Linked DNA regions of Homo sapiens: regions 1 and 3 are each linked to region 2. Evidence: fine-mapped expression QTL. A gene starts in region 2. Each other region holds a variant in brackets. All regions are shown on one strand. Distances are from middle to middle. Region 1 has its middle 30 kb from the start of MIR4659B. Region 2 holds the start of AGPAT5 (1-acylglycerol-3-phosphate O-acyltransferase 5). Region 3 overlaps AGPAT5 (1-acylglycerol-3-phosphate O-acyltransferase 5).

Evidence for each region. PIP is the estimated chance that this variant, and not a neighbour inherited with it, causes the effect. A credible set is the group of variants that fine-mapping cannot tell apart.
Region 1: its variant is the best candidate, but not a certain one, in a credible set for the expression of AGPAT5 in esophagus mucosa (GTEx, PIP 0.81).
Region 3: its variant is the best candidate, but not a certain one, in a credible set for the expression of AGPAT5 in spinal cord (GTEx, PIP 0.61).

What each region holds. Positions count from the first base shown.
Region 1 is chr8:6,772,828-6,778,053 of GRCh38, forward strand. No RefSeq gene overlaps it. Among named protein-coding and RNA genes, the nearest start is that of MIR4659B, 30 kb to the left of the region's middle. RefSeq lists an enhancer at 1,295-1,795. The variant G/T (reference allele first, on the strand shown) is at 2,955.
Region 2 is chr8:6,705,723-6,710,948 of GRCh38, forward strand. It overlaps AGPAT5 (1-acylglycerol-3-phosphate O-acyltransferase 5), which reads left to right and starts at 2,920. Exons shown (of 8, transcript NM_018361.5): 1 at 2,920-3,165. The coding sequence starts at 2,947. It overlaps MCPH1-AS1 (MCPH1 antisense RNA 1), which reads right to left and starts at 2,487. Exons shown (of 5, transcript NR_125386.1): 1 at 2,419-2,487. RefSeq lists silencers at 2,674-3,013, 3,074-3,313.
Region 3 is chr8:6,731,224-6,736,449 of GRCh38, forward strand. It overlaps AGPAT5 (1-acylglycerol-3-phosphate O-acyltransferase 5), which reads left to right. Exons shown (of 8, transcript NM_018361.5): 4 at 1,338-1,427. Among named protein-coding and RNA genes, the nearest start is that of MIR4659A, 11 kb to the right of the region's middle. The variant C/T (reference allele first, on the strand shown) is at 2,128.

The DNA of each region.
Region 1 (5,226 bases), 67 kb after region 2:
AGCTGCTGCGCCTGGCTGTTCACCTTTATATTATTATTGCCCCACATGCTTGAGGCCACACTAAGCAGAAAGCCAGCTCTAAAGACTGAAATGACAAGGGTAGCCTAGAGTCACAGGGGTAAAAGAAGCTCCTGGTATTTTATTTTGAAACCATAGAAGATGAGAAAAGGCCTAGCTAACGGACAAGATCAGACACCCGAGGTTTCTCATTAAGCGTGACCTGAAAGCCTGTCTGGACAGCCGCAGATGAGGAGCAGCGCCTGCGTTCATCCACGCTGGGTGAAAGGTAAGAATTCAGGGTTACATGCGTGAAGGGGAAAGCAAGCGGGAAGCCCTTAGCATTCAAGCCCCTGAGCTCTGGTGTTGTCCACCCCTGGGGGCTGCCTGGTGGCAGGACGGCACTTCACGAGGGGAGATGGACCCCAGTGGGAACCACACTCAATCCCTCTACGCCCAGGCCGCTGTCAGACACTGGAGTCCTCCGCACAGTCCTGCAGCCGGAAGCACACGCTGCCAGTATCCCCTCCCTCCCACTCCCAGCCTACAGACAAGCGCATCTCTGCTGCATTCATCGCCGCACACGCCCTAAAAATGTCCTCACGTGAGTCTGTGCCAGCCTGCGCGCAAACCGTGAGCCCACCGCGCTGTGTGCACGCTCAGCTTCCCCCAGGCTGCGTCCCTCCCCCGTGGGGTCGCATTCCCTACTGGGAACCACTGCCTTCAAGCTGGAGCTCGGTCCCAGCTAGAAACACCCCCACTCCTTCTAATGGGGCAGTAAAAAAGCAAAACTAGCTCTGTGGAACGGTCTCTTTCAGATGTGCTTCCAGTCCCCTGTAAAACGTGTCAGCTCCATTTAGGTGAGGTCATGTTCTCTGGGGGCAAGCTCATAAACTCACGGCCGATGCAGCATCCCGGGGATCTCTGCGGGGGCCTGGACAGCCTGTCCCCACCTCCTGGAGGCCAGTCAGAGTCCGGGCAGCCCACTCCCTGGTCTCACAGGACCTGAGTCATGGAGCAGAGAGAACCTGCAGAGAGACTTTCCCATATGGAGGCTGAGGCTAGAGAGCATGAGAGCGTGGCCCTGGGCTCACCTGGTTAGAGGCAGCATGGGGTCCTCTGCAGGTCCCCAAGGCCTCAACCAGGCCTGGGGGCGGTGGGAGCAGCTCACTGATGATGAGGAACCAACTTCAGTGCCTGATGCTGTAGCAGCTGAGTCACAGATAAGCAGGCACTGGCAGCTGGCACATGCCCAGACCAACCCGACCCAGCCCAGCCCGGGCAGCGGCAGTGAGAGCTGCCAACCCCCACAGCTGCCCCTGTCTCTCACCTGCAAGCCCTGCCTGCCCCTGCCACTAGCGTGGAGCCTGTCTTCTGGGGAGGCCGGGGCAGTCCTGGTGCTTGTCATCTCTTGCAGCAGCTGCCTGGGCTGGGCTGAGTTGGGCTGGGCTGGCCTGTCTTCCTGCCATGGCTGGATATTTATATTAAACTTGAGGAAGGGAGAAAGGGGATTTACAAGGCACACTCAATTCTTTCTAACTCTAAGGTCCTGGCCTTGTCTATGTCCTTGTGGAGGGGCGATCTTGGCCAAAATCACTGTCCTTCGAAGGTCAGCATGTGCTTGGTGTCTTCCTGAATAAAGGGAAGGACATGCTGATGCCTCTTCCCCAGGCTGAAGATCTTTGGATGGTTAAGAAACTCCTGACCACACTCTTGAAAGCCGACATGCTGGCTGCCATCAGCAGCACCCCTTGGGCCTGACCTCCAAGCCACAATTAATCCTGCAAGCTATGACCCAGAGTATTGATGTCCTCACATTCCCAGATTAGCGCCCCCACCCATATCCCTAGCACCGACTCTGCCCCATGCCACCTGAGCCATGATTCCAGCCCTCAGCACACAGGTGCACACGCTGCCTGGACAATGGCCAGAGAACTGCCACAGGTCACACTGTGTCTCACGGCTTCTCACTTCCGTAGAGAAACCGGAAGACAGGTCTCAAACCAGACCTGAGGCAGCAGCAATAGCCACAGCAATGAGTGGTCATAGCTCAAATGCCTACTGCACCCCAGCCTGCCACCTGCCTTATTTAACCCTCGCAATTGTATAGAGTTGGCGTCACTATTCCCACTGCACAGAAAAAGAAACAAAATCCCAGAACAGATAGAAGATGCCCAAGGTCACAGACCTAACCATTAGAAGTGCTGCCATGTGAGCATAGGTGTAATTGTCTACGGAGCTCTAGAAAACAGATGAACTAGCAGGAAGGGTCACTGCAGGCCGGGACAACACCCAGGGAAAGGCCTCACTATGGCTGGGAAGAGCGCGGTGTGTGCGTCTAGCAGGAGTCCAGGTGTGGGGCAGGAGAGGCCGCTTGGGGAAAGGGAGCGACCACACACTGGGTCCTGCCTCATGTGCACCTGGCCATGTGTCGGCACTTGGTGTCGTTATCCTGCCCGCTCCTTACGAGAACCCTGTGAAACAGAAACTCCTCCTGATTTTACAGCTGAGGCCAAGGAAGCTCACACATCACAGATTAAATAATCGATTCAAAGTTACTGAAAGAATAGGAGAGTCCAAATCTATTTGCTTAATCCCCAGACCAGGGCTTTCTGCACGTGCCTCAGAGCCTTTGGTGCAGCTCCAAAGGGAGGCATCGAGAAACACCACCGGCTGGAAATGTGGCTCTGCTCCCGATCTTTGTCTGCGTTGGCGAGACACCGGCCGCTCTGGGCCGGAATCTCTCATCTACGAAAAAGTGGGTAGATGGAGACCACCCTCACGTTCCCTTCCAGCTATAGAAACAGTAACTTCCAGTCCTTAACTCGATGCTGTGTGGGTGTGTGGCTGAAACTGCTCACAGAGCAAGCTGGACAAGCGGACCTGGATTGAAACCCGCCCCTCCCTGGAGAAACAGGGGTGGCCTCCCTCCCCCATGGCAGGGACCTGCTGGGCAG[G/T]ACTGAAGCCTGGCTCCTGACAAAGATTCTATTCTTCTCGATGCTTTCTCATTGTTCTTTGTGTTTACAAAGTGTCTTCCTTCAAGGGAACAGTGACTTGGACAAGCAGTGCCGAACTCTGAAGGCGCAGGGCTGTGATGGCTGCAGCCTCTTGCAGTGTTTCTCGGTGTCTTTCCTTGGGTTCCAAAGCCCTTACCAGGCAGGCTTCTGGACAGTGAGTGGGAGTTGGCTCTGTTGTTATTTGCCACAGGTGACATCAGGGTAAAGGATGGATTTGGGGTGAGCCGTGAGTAGGCTATTATCCACTGCACTTGAGGTGTGAACCTCCTGGTCCCCCTCAGCAGGTCCTGGCTTGTTCATGGAATGGAGGAGTCTGGGAAGGCGCTGAGAGGCATCCGCTAGGGAACCTGTTCCACCTGGGTGCTCAGACCCTGGCAGGAGCCCTTGCTGAAGTCCAGAGAGCCCCTGGCTGTCCCCTCTCATGACACTCAAAATCTGCCGGAGCCTGCAGCCCAGCCCTGCCCAGCACCCTCTTATGGCACTCAAAATCTGCCCGAGCCTGCAGCCCAGCCTTGCCTGGCAGAGCCCAATCCACAGATCTTCCTGCCCTCAACCTGCCAGTTAACAAGTTAGCCCTGTTTTCCAGGGCCTGAAGCTGTTTAGCAGAAGTAAAAAGGCCTTTAGGCTGACCAAGTAAACATGTGCAAAACACATCCCTGTGCCAGGTGGTTCTGGGGTCATGGAGATTGTTACGGGCTGGATTCGGTCCTCCTAAAATTCTTCTGTTGAAGTCCTAACCCCTAATACTCAGAAGGAGATATGACTTTAAAGAGGTAATTAAGGTAAAACGAGGTCATTACATGGCCCTAATCCAATCTGACTGGGTCCTTACACATGGAGGAGATTTAGGACGAGGATACACCTGGGGGAAAATCCTGTAAGGACACAGGGAGAACACACGTCTAGGGGCCAAGGAGAGAGGCTTCAGGACAAACCAGCCCTGCCAATACCTTCTACTCTCCAGAACTGTGGGAAAATCAATTTCTATTGTTTGAGTCATGCACTCTGTGATATTTGTTATCGCAGCCCAAGCAAACTAATAAAGAGATTGATACAAAATCACCCCTAAGCTCTGAGAATCACTGTGTAGCAGGAGATGCCAACACATAAGACGTGATGTGTTCCGTCGGGAAAGTCACACACCTCTCCTCTGACCACTCCACTCCCCACTCTGGATGCGGGTGGGGCCTTTGGCTTTTGGTGAGGCCCCTCTGGTGTCTCTGCCCACAGAGCTCCCTCCACACCTGTATTCAGGCCCCAGCTCAGGAAGCTTCCCAGGAGAGTCAAGTACACACAAAGCCTGTGCCAGACAGAAGTAAATTAAGACAACCTGGATGCTTTAAATCTCCCCTCCCTCCTACAGTTACTGTGATCTATACGCCTCTAACGTCTGACATTCTCAAAGCAACTCGGTGCGTGTCCATCTGTCTAGAGAGCTCTTAAAAGGCATAAGAGCAGAACGATCACCAGCGATTCCGCAGGCACGTTCTCACACGGACGTTAGTAACAGCTGAATTAAATGCTTTTTGAATGAGTGATGTATTGGATGCATTTGTTATTATTTTACTCTATGAACTATAAAGAAAGATTGATGACACCTAAACTCTTGGGCAGGATCCCCTTTTCCTTGCTCTGTAATGCACTTCCCCTGGCAAACTCCTACTCACTTCTCAAAACCCAACCCGAGGGTTTGTCTTTCTGAAGGCTACGCTGTCTCCACAAGCTGAGCTGATCAGCCCATCCTTAGAACAATCACTTGTTAAACCCAATGACAAGGGTGTGATGGGCTATGTGTGTCCCACCCCTAATTCACACATTGAAGCCCTCACCCCTAATGTGATGGGATTTGGAGGCGGGTCCTTTGGGAGGTGATTAGGTTTAGATGAGGTTGTGAAGGTGGTGTACGAAGCCATTCTTCACTGTTCTAAAGAAATACCTGAGATTGGGTAATTTATAAAGAAACGAGGTTGGCTTGGCTCATTGTCCTGCAGGCTGAGCAAACATAGCGCTTGCCTGTGCTCAGTTTCTGGGGAGGTCTCAAGGAGCTTTTACTCATGGTGGAAGGTGAAGTGAGAACAGGCACGTCACATGGTGAAAGCAGAAGCAAGAGAGAAGGAGGAGGTGCCACACACTTTTCACAACCGGATCTCGCAAGTACCTGCTCACTATGCAAGGTCAGCACCAAATCATGAGGGATCTGTCCCTATGGCCC
Region 2 (5,226 bases):
CAGAACTTCATAACTACTTAAATTTATAATTAAAAGCCTTTTTAAATTTATCATTAAAAGCCCCCCTCTCCCCACCTTTTTTTTTCTTTGAGATGGACTCTTTCTCTTTTGCCCAGGCTGGATTGCAGTGACGCGATCATGGCTCATAGCAGCTTTGAACTCCTGGGCTCAAGCAATCCTCCCAACTCAGCCTCCTGAGTAGCTGGGGCTACAGGCATGCACAATCACACCCAGCTAATTAAAAAAATATATTTGTAGAGATGGAGGCCTCACTCTACAAAGCGCTTAAGTGATCCTTCCTCCTTGGCCTCCTGAAGTGCTGGAATTACAGGTATAGGCCACCATGCCCAGCTGAGAAAAACATTTAAATATCAGTTTAAGAATGTGTGATGGGAATACACAGCATTCTTTCAAGGGGCATCTCAACAAATTTTAAAAAGAACACTGTGGCCCACTCCAGTGCTATGCATGAGAATATGGTGATTTCTCAGCTTCAGGCGTTCAAATGTGCCATTCTCCCATGGAAAGCCCACTAAGTCCCTCAAGCTTCACCTGAAATACCATTTCACTGAGAAGTCTTCCTTGTCTCCAGACTAAATTAGATTGCCTTGATATATGCTCCCAGAGAACCAAGAATGTCCCCTTTTCATCCCACAGGTAACTCCTTGTTAAATGTTGTACAAGGAAGGCATAGACAGAATTCACCTTTCACTGTTCCACTGGTGCCCAGCAGGGTATGCAAAGGAGGAAATCAGCTGTGCTCTGAAAGAAGCACCATTCCAGTAAAGGGGAGGAAAAGGTCATCAGACTGCAAGGGCTCAACAAAAGTACAAGGTAAGGAGGCAGAGGGTGTGGGCTGATTATCAACTAAGAGGTTTGCACGGAAAAAGGGAAAAAAAAAAAAACAGAAAAACAGGGCCGGGTAGTGGCAGAAAGAGAGGGTGGATCTGTGACTGTTCGCAGGAAGAGAGGAGCGGGAGCAGGACAGACAATAACTGATAGTCAGGAGCTGGGTTTGGAGATAAAGAGGGAACAAGAGAAAGTTAAGTTCTGTGTTTTCATGGCAAACATTGCACAAAAGTTTACAACTTCGTGACTAACAGTAATCTGGGGTGATTCACAACAAATTTACACATAAACACATATTTACTGACTTTATACACAGCAATCCTAACGTGAACACAGAACCTGCTTTATCTTTTCGCACACTGTTCTAGTGTAGAGATGTCTGGTCTCAGTTAAAGAAAGCATAAGGAGCATTAGTTGTGCACACTGTCCACACCTGTGACTTTTTTCCACCAGTACTAAACCTAGTGCTTCTTACAGTACAGGACAATGACAGCCACAGAAAGAGAGAAGCTCCTTTTACTGTGTAATGCTTCCTGCTGGCCTTCAAATACTTGTTACTTGAGAGATCTCCATTCACCTGGCTTTGTCCCCAAAGGTCATCATCTACCAATGATGTTGTTATTTGATGTTAATCATGTATAAAGAAAGTAGCTACCATCCTGGCCCTGATTAGAACTTCCCACTGAAATACCGTCCTGCCTAAAGGTAGCACAGGCTCCCATTATGGTGGTGGTGGGGAGGGGGCGGGAATATATATATATATATATATATATATATATATATATATATGGTAAAGCATTCGGCATTCTTTTAAAGTACAACTATCCTTGAAAAGGGTTACATATTAAACCATTTTTACCACAGCCAAAGGGGAGGAGAAAGATCCAAAAGTCCTGTGGATCTGCTTTAACATCAATAAAACAGTTATCCACCCTTCGTAGCTTTTAGTGAAGGCTACAAAAGTATGCTTTTTATGGATTACACATGTGCACGCAACTACTTTAATTACTACAGAAAAAAACGAGGCTCCTTATTAAAAAAAAATCAGAAACAAGTCCAACAGACTCTGAGGAAATGAAGCAAGAGTGAATTCTGAAAAGGTCTAATAAACAGTATGGAAATATCCTTGTGGGATTGTTCTTCAGCTATGCATAAACATGTAATTATCATCATTACTGTGATGGGGAAAAACACGGACCCTAATTCTGAAACACCCTGGTAGCGAGAGACGGGCAGGAGGGGCTGCTGCGCACTCAGAGCGGAGGCTGAGGAGGCGGCGTCCCCTTGCAAAGGACTGGCAGTGAGCAGATGGGGACACTCGAGCTGCCCCGCGACCTGGGCCGAGCTGCCTACAACCTGGGCCCAGGTGCCTGCAAGAATTAGACCTCCGATAACGTTAACACCCACTTTCTCACTGCTCTAATTGTGTGCATCCCGGCGCCCAGGGGCTTGTGAGCAGCAGGTGCGCGTTCCAGGCAGCTCCAGCGACCCTTAAACCTGACCGCGCGCACGTCCGGCCCGAGGGAGCAGAACAAGAGGCACCCGGACCCTCCTCCGGCCAGCACCCACCTTCACCCAGTTCCGTCAGTCGCCACCACCTCCCTTCCCGCGTCCGCAGCCGGCCCAGCTGGGGAGCATGCGCAGTGGCCGGAGCCGGGTTGCCCGCGCCCCAGCAGGTAGCTGTACTGCAACTGTCGGCCCAAACCAACCAATCAAGAGACGTGTTATTGCCGCCGAGGTGGAACTATGGCAACGGGCGACCAATCAGAAGGCGCGTTGTTGCCGCGGAGCCCCCTGCCCCGGCAGGGGGATGTGGCGATGGGTGAGGGTCATGGGGTGTGAGCATCCCTGAGCCATCGATCCGGGAGGGCCGCGGGTTCCCTTGCTTTGCCGCCGGGAGCGGCGCACGCAGCCCCGCACTCGCCTACCCGGCCCCGGGCGGCGGCGCGGCCCATGCGGCTGGGGGCGGAGGCTGGGAGCGGGTGGCGGGCGCGGCGGCCCGGGCCCGGGCGGTGATTGGCCGCCTGCTGGCCGCGACTGAGGCCCGGGAGGCGGGCGGGGAGCGCAGGCGGAGCTCGCTGCCGCCGAGCTGAGAAGATGCTGCTGTCCCTGGTGCTCCACACGTACTCCATGCGCTACCTGCTGCCCAGCGTCGTGCTCCTGGGCACGGCGCCCACCTACGTGTTGGCCTGGGGGGTCTGGCGGCTGCTCTCCGCCTTCCTGCCCGCCCGCTTCTACCAAGCGCTGGACGACCGGCTCTACTGCGTCTACCAGAGCATGGTGCTCTTCTTCTTCGAGAATTACACCGGGGTCCAGGTGAGCCGCCTCCCGCTCCCGGGTCTCGGCGTCCACCCGAGCTCCCGGGGGCGCGGACCTCTCCGCTCCCCCACAGCTGGCGAGGGTCACCCGGCCGGCCCGGCGGACCCAGCACGGAGAGCACGTGCCGCCTCCCCGCCTTCCTCTCCGCATGCTTCCTGCCGTTCTGCCGAGATCGCTCTCTAGGAAGCTGTGGCTGCGTCGTCCTGAGGCTACGAGTGGGACCCGCCGCCCCTTTCCCCGCCCCTCGCCTGGGTCTGATGCTGCTTAGCAAAGTGGGTGCAGATGCACGTTTTAAATAATAGGGCACGCGTTTAGCAGTTTCTGGCCTTTGGTCCAAAGAGGTGGTCATGTTGGAACAGATCGGAGACGTCTACACTCCGAAGTGCGCTTTTACAGTGACCTCTTGAAACAGAAGTACAATTCGGTCTTGTGTTCTTTCCCCTGGACAAGTGAAAGCTGGGCGAAGAAATGAATACATTTGTTAACCGTAGAAGCCTAACTAGATACATTTCTTGCCAACTTTAACTGGGCTTGAATGTGTGGGTGATCTGTTGTCTGATTACTTTCTTTCTGTTACTGTTTCTCTGTAGAGATTGGATTCGTAGATTAAACTTGAGAAACAAACCATAAAAGTGGAAGGCCCTCTTTAACAGTAGGTATTTGAAGTGTTATAAAAAAAAAAAAAAGGTGAATTTTTCTTTTATTTCTCAGTTTGAAAGAACAGCTTTATTCTTGGTTATTCCTAATGTCCACCTAGTCCTCTTTTACTTTTCTTGGTAGGGTTAGGGTGGCATGGGGAAATGGGACGGTATCATTTTGTCTTTTTAACTTTTTTTTTTTCCACCTACAGCAGCTGTTTTTACCCTGTGGTCAGTCAGGTACTATATTTAGTTTGCAGTTGCACTGCTGATCGACCCTTGATGGCCCCAGTTGGAAGTTGTTTGGGGGGAAGGAACTAGGAGAGGCCAGGGCCTCCATTTAAACCAGTGTCTGTAAGTGTCTCCTTGGAAAGAAAAAAAGATACTGTTCCAGGTCATGGTTTCCTGGTAGTTGACGTTTAAAATGGGCCTCATTTAAAAATTTCAATAATTCAGGCTAATTTTTTCCCTTTATATGGTAACTCCACCAAGTTTGTCTAAATGTATGATTTTTATCATGATTAAGTTTTTACTTCCACATCATGTGACAACTGGCCTGGGATGGGATATAAGCTCAGAACACAAAGTCATTCACCTCTTAAAAAAATAATTCTATCTGTGGCGGGTTATGTTATTTTTGTTCAAAGAGGACACAATATGATGCAGAATACACCATTGAAGGATTTTTTGGTTTGGCAAGTTCTTATTTTTTTAAATGGCTGTAAAACCTAGCAGTGTTTCTGAAATTGCATACCTTACCTGATGTTCAGAGATCCGATTTACTTCTTGATTTCCCAGCAAGTGATTTTGAAAACATTTAATCTAATCATTCCCCCCACCGTCTGTTCAAATCAAAGGAAGTGGCATCCAGCACTAATTTTCATGCATTTATGAAAGGATGCCTGAGGACCCTTAAGTATAATTCAAAATTTTGTTTAATGTGTGTTCCTTGATGAAGTTCTTTAGGAGTCGTAGAACGAACTGATTGCCCACTGATCATCAAATGCAAGTTATGAACATTTAATAAAAATTTAAAACCAAGAGTTTCTTGTTCCTGCATTTTTATTTTTATTGTATGGAGGGGACAAATAATTATTTTCTGTTTAGTAACAGAGCAGGGTATTTTGAATTTATTAGGGTCTTTTTCTGCAATCTGGGTTTCCTGTGTACACAAAGCTACCTTTCAATATTTTTTATTGTTTCTGTTAAGATTAAATCAATAGAGGAATAAATAGCTATCTTCAAACATAAGACCCAAAGGAAAAAGATTTATAGTGATGTTCTGTCACCTTATTTTTTACCTGTGACTTTGTACCATTAACTTTGTCACTGAGATGTTTTGATTAAAATTTTTAGCTTGCTTTTCTTGTTTTGTTAGGACACTCTTTTTTTCTTGAATTGTTTTTATCAGCTTTCGTTT
Region 3 (5,226 bases), 26 kb after region 2:
TGGGTTTAATAGTTTATTCTCAGTTGAAGTAATTTTGTTTGGCATTTTTAGTGGTGTGTATTTATATACGTCTGATTATCCATATGCGGTTTTCCTTCAGCATCTGTGGGGATTGGTTTTAGAACCACCACAGATACCAAAATCTAAGGTGTTCAAGACCCTCATATAGAATGGGATAGTATTTGCATATAACCTGTGCACTACTTTAAATCATCTCTAGATTACTTATAATATCTAATACATTATAAATGCCATGTAAATGGTTGTTATACTTTATTTTTTATTTGTATTATTTTAATTGTTATATTATTTTTAATTTTTATTTGTTCACATATTTTTGATCTGTGATTTGTTGAATCTGCAGATGTGGAACTCATGGATGTGAAGGGCCAGCTGCAGTAAAATGAAAGAGCAAAAATGCAAATGTACAAAGTTCAAACAAATAGGAAATTTAAAGGCATAGAATTTGATAGGCAATTACATTAAACTGTTGATAACAGTAATTAGTGATCTGTATGATATTAAAAAAAAAAAGCAAACTGTATATATAAAACTTACTTTCTCCAGTTCTGGAGGCTAGACATCCAAGATCAAGGTGTTGACAGGGTTAGTTTCTCCCAAGGCCTCTCTCCCAGGCTTGCAGACAGCATCCTTCTTCCTGTGTCCTCAGGTGGTTTTTTTCCCTGTGCCCAAGCACCGCTGGCACTGCTTCCTCTTCTTAGAAGGACTAGTTACACTGGATGACTAATCCTTCTACAGAGACTGCTAAGGTCCCACTCTGAGGCCCTTTTTTAACCTTAATTACCACCTCTAAGTCCCTCTCTCTGAATACAGTCACAGTGGGAACTATTAGGGCTTTAGTAGACTGATTTGGGGGAACACACTTCTGTCCGTAACAGTGCCACATAAATATCTTTAGCAGGATTGATTTTTTAAAATCCCTAAAGATCGTGAGACATGTTAAGGACGCTTTTTAGTGACTCTGTAATAAGTGGGTGGAAGAATTGGGAGTTAAATCCATCTGATGGATCAGGTTTTTTATTTTTAAAAATGTGTATTTAAGAAAGAAAGCATTTTCATTTTAACTGCCAACAAAACTAAACTTCATGTGTTTTCCAATACAGTGTCACATGCAGTTTTTTTGAATTATGTTGAGACAAGGCAATTTTCAGCTAAATGTTCTTTAGAAGCTAATGTTTGAAGATATTAAATATAGATTAAATTCTGAAATGTAGTTTTCATTCTGTACTTTTTGCAAGAGAAGTTGCCTTTTTGATGACTCTGGCCAATTGTTATTTTAAAAGTAAATGCTCTTTCTCCCGATTTGATTGTGGCAGCATGGAGGAATCTATGTAAAGCGCAGTGCCAAATTTAACGAGAAAGAGATGCGAAACAAGTTGCAGAGCTACGTGGACGCAGGAACTCCAGTAAGAGCCTACCCGTTTTTATTTTTCTTACCAGCTCTCAGTTTCTAAATTTAAGAATTAAATTAAAATCTAAGAATTGTTTTGACAATGTATTTTCCCATGTGTAATTACTAATTCAGGGTTATGCTGAGGTAACAGAAACCCTCTATGTACAGGTAGGCAGGTTTTTCAGCCATCAGAAAGATTGCTGTAAACAACTAGGTCCTTTGCTGGTCAGTGGACCTTAAAGAGGAATAAAAAGAGCATTTGGTGTCGTTCAGAGTCTATAAATAGAACTAACTGCATTTTAACCTGACATTTAAGCTAGTTTACAAGCTCATCTTACTTCTTGTCTTCTTTAGTATCAGATTTGGTTTTAGAAGCAGCAACTGTTTTCTGTTAGTGCAAATTTTGAATGTCTTACATGTACAGAAAAACCAAAAAAGGATGAATCTCTACAAATGTTAAATCATTCAGTGTAAATAATATTTTATAAAACTTTATTCCACAAAAGTGGGGAGAGTTCAATCTGCTTTGTATAGAATGCTGATTGCTGCCAAAGGCTTTTCCCCTGGTTCCCTCCGGAGACAAAGCACCATGATCACCGGGGCGACTTGGGCTTTCTCTTTCAGTACATGACATGTGCTCAGAAGCTTAGCTCGTGTGCACAGGCTTTCCCTTTCCTTTCTGGCTCCCTCCCTCTGTCTTCCCTCCTCTCCTC[C/T]TGCCCTCCCCTCACCAGGGGTCCTGGGCAGCAGCTGGAGCTCATGGTGAAGGAAGAATTCTTCACGGTCAGCTGGCGAAGTGCCTGGTGTGAGCATTGTTTATTCACATGCCTCTTCTAGGTGTTTTTACATTAGAACATTGCATCTGTTTTGGGCATGTGTTGGGTGACAGAAGCAGAATGGAATGAGATGAACAGTGACCCTTTATCCTGTTATAGCTAACCCTTGAGAACCAAGCTTGGTGTCTTCAAAGGGTCTGTTTAGTCTGAAACAGTGTGGTGAATTTGGGCAGAATTGTGGTCATTGCATGTAGGTCTCCAAAAGACAGAATAAGTTGGTAATATGGTTTATCGACTTTTTACAAAAAAAATTTAAAAATCATGAATTTATACCTTAAAATGTCCATCCCACTTCTCTCCCAGCTGTCCAGTCACCCCAGCAATGGATGACTGCTGTGGAGTTCCTTCTGTGTCCTGCTGTGGGCATTGTATATATGAAGCAAATGAAGATAGCTGCCTTTTGGGTGATGTTGGCATCCTATGCACAGTGGCCCCTTGCTTTTTTGCCCCCATGAATATAGCTGCCAGTGGCGCTAGGGCTGAAAAAATCAGCTCTTTACACTTGTCATGTGTCTTGTTTATGTGGCTGCCTTCGTGAGTTTCTTCTTGTTTTTGGTTTGCAGCAGTTTAAGTATCATATATCTGAGTGTCATTTAAAAATTTTTACCTGGATTGGTCCTCTGAGCTTGGATCTATGATTTGGTGTCTGTTATTAATTTTGGAAATTTCTTTGCTCTTATTTCCTTAAATATTATTCCTACCCCAGTCTTTCTTCTCCAGTTATGTTTGTGTTGGTTCATTTCTCGCTGTTCTTTAGTTCTTAGATGCATTATTCGTTTTTTGTTGGTTTTTTTTTTAATTTTTTTTTTTACGCCCCCTCCCTTTTTTCTTTTTGTGTTACATTTTGGATAATTTCTGTTGACCCACCTTTGAGTTCATGGATTCTTCCTTTGGCTGTGTTGAGTCTACTGGTGAGCCAGTTTAAGGCACTCTTCATCTCTGCTACTGCGTGTTTCATTCCTCACATTTCCCTTTGACCCTGTTTCATAGTTTCCATCTCTGTGCTAGTGTATCTATCTGATCATAAAGCTTAGTCACGTTTTCCAGTTGAACCTTTATCATTTTATTATACTTGCAGTTCTCTTAAATTCCCTGCTTGATAATTCCAACATCTGGGCCATATCTGAGTCTGCAAATTTTGATTACTTTATCTCTTCAGATTGTGCTTTATCTTGCCTTTGTCATACTTCCTAAGATTTTGCCTAACGCTGGGCCTTTTTTGTAAGACAGGAGAAATGGAGGCAAGTTGTCTTGATACCTGGAAATGGATAGACTTGTCTTTCTGCTTGGCCTTTAGTGTTGAGGAGTGGAGTCAGTCCACTGAGGAGGTGCACTGCATTTGGGTTTTGCTCATGTGCTTTTTCTCACAGCTTCAGGTTTCTGTAGAACTCATTACTTTGTTTGTAGGTTGGGGATGTCCTCCCGCTAGAGCTTTTCCTCAGTGTCTATTTCACACTCAGCGTTTTCACATAGCACCTTGGAGTGGCTCTCTTCTTTATGCCTTTCCCCACTATACTTCTTGGATACTTGTTACTGAACTCTCGCTAGTTTGGTGGTAGAAGGAGAGGGAAGGGAAGTGTCTTTTCATTCTTAGGGAGAATCTCAGGGGTGGAGCCTTCTCTGATCCTGCCTTGCTTCTGGCTGTAAGTCTGTGCCCAGTATGTATTCCTGCCTTTACTAAGAGTTTTTCCCTGTTCTCTTCACCCAGCCTCATCGAGTATTCATCCGTGCCCCATGGGTAGCAGGGTTTTGTTGCCCCTGTTCATCAGTTTCAGGCTGCTGTTCCATAGGAAAGGTAGAAAGAAGGATGTGGGCTGGGCCCTGAGCCCTTCCCACAGGGCTGCTTTTCCCTCCCACAAGCCTACATCCAGTCTTCCCTGACCGCAGTGTGTTTTCCTTTTTCTTTGTCTTGTGAGTACACAGGAGGTCTGTGGGTCGAGCCTGTGAAATGTGCTGCATTCTCCTTGTGTCTGTAGCCCAGGGGTTCGTCTGTTCCACTGGCTCATACTTGGCTTTCTGCAAAATTGTTAAAATTTTTAGCTAAATTCTTTTTACTGGTATCTGTTACATTGGCCCCCAACTAAACAACCACTTGCATCTTGTTTCTCCTTTGAGTTTTCCATGTTTCCTTAGACTTTTGGGTTAGTTGGTTGCCTTGCAACCTTGCAGCTCTCTGAAGGGTCTAAGAAAAGTCATGAATCTACAGCTTGTCAGTGTTGTTGTTGTTGTAGGGTTGGCAGTAGTATTCCTTCAGCATTCTACATACTTAATGGAAGCCGCCTCCCATTTTTGGTTAATAAATTTCAAAACTTGGAACAATGTTAGATTTACAAAAACGTCAGAAAGAACAGAGTGTTCCTGTTTATTCTTTATATAGCCTTTTTTTTTTTTTTTTTTTTTTTGAGTTGGAGTCTCGGTCTGTCACCCAGGCTGGAGTGCAGTGGCACGATCTTGGCTCACTGCAACCTCTGCCTCACGGGTTCAAGCAATCTCCTGCCTCAGCCTCCTGAGTAGCTGGGATTACAGGCGTGCACCGCCATGCCCGGCTAATTTTTGTATTTTTAGTAGAGACAGGGTTTCACCATGTTGGCCAGGCTGGTCTCGAACTCCTGACCTCTTGATCCGCCCGCCTCGGCCCCCCACAGTGCTGGGATTATAGGTGTGAGCCACCACGCCCAGCCTTCTTCATCTAGCTTTAACATCTAATGTTGACATCTTACATAACATGGTATATATTTGTCAAAACTAAGAAATAAACATTGGTACCACACTATTAATTGTACTACAGATTTTTATTCAGACTTTACCAGGTTTTCCACTAATGTCCTTTTTCTGTTCTAAAATACAATCCAGAATAGATACAAATCCATTCAACTTCAGTGTTTTAAATTATTGTTTTTCATTATATGAAGTGCTGTGTGGTTTTTGTCAAATCTGTTATTTTGGTTTTAATCTTCAAGCTTGTCTTTGTTTCTTTAA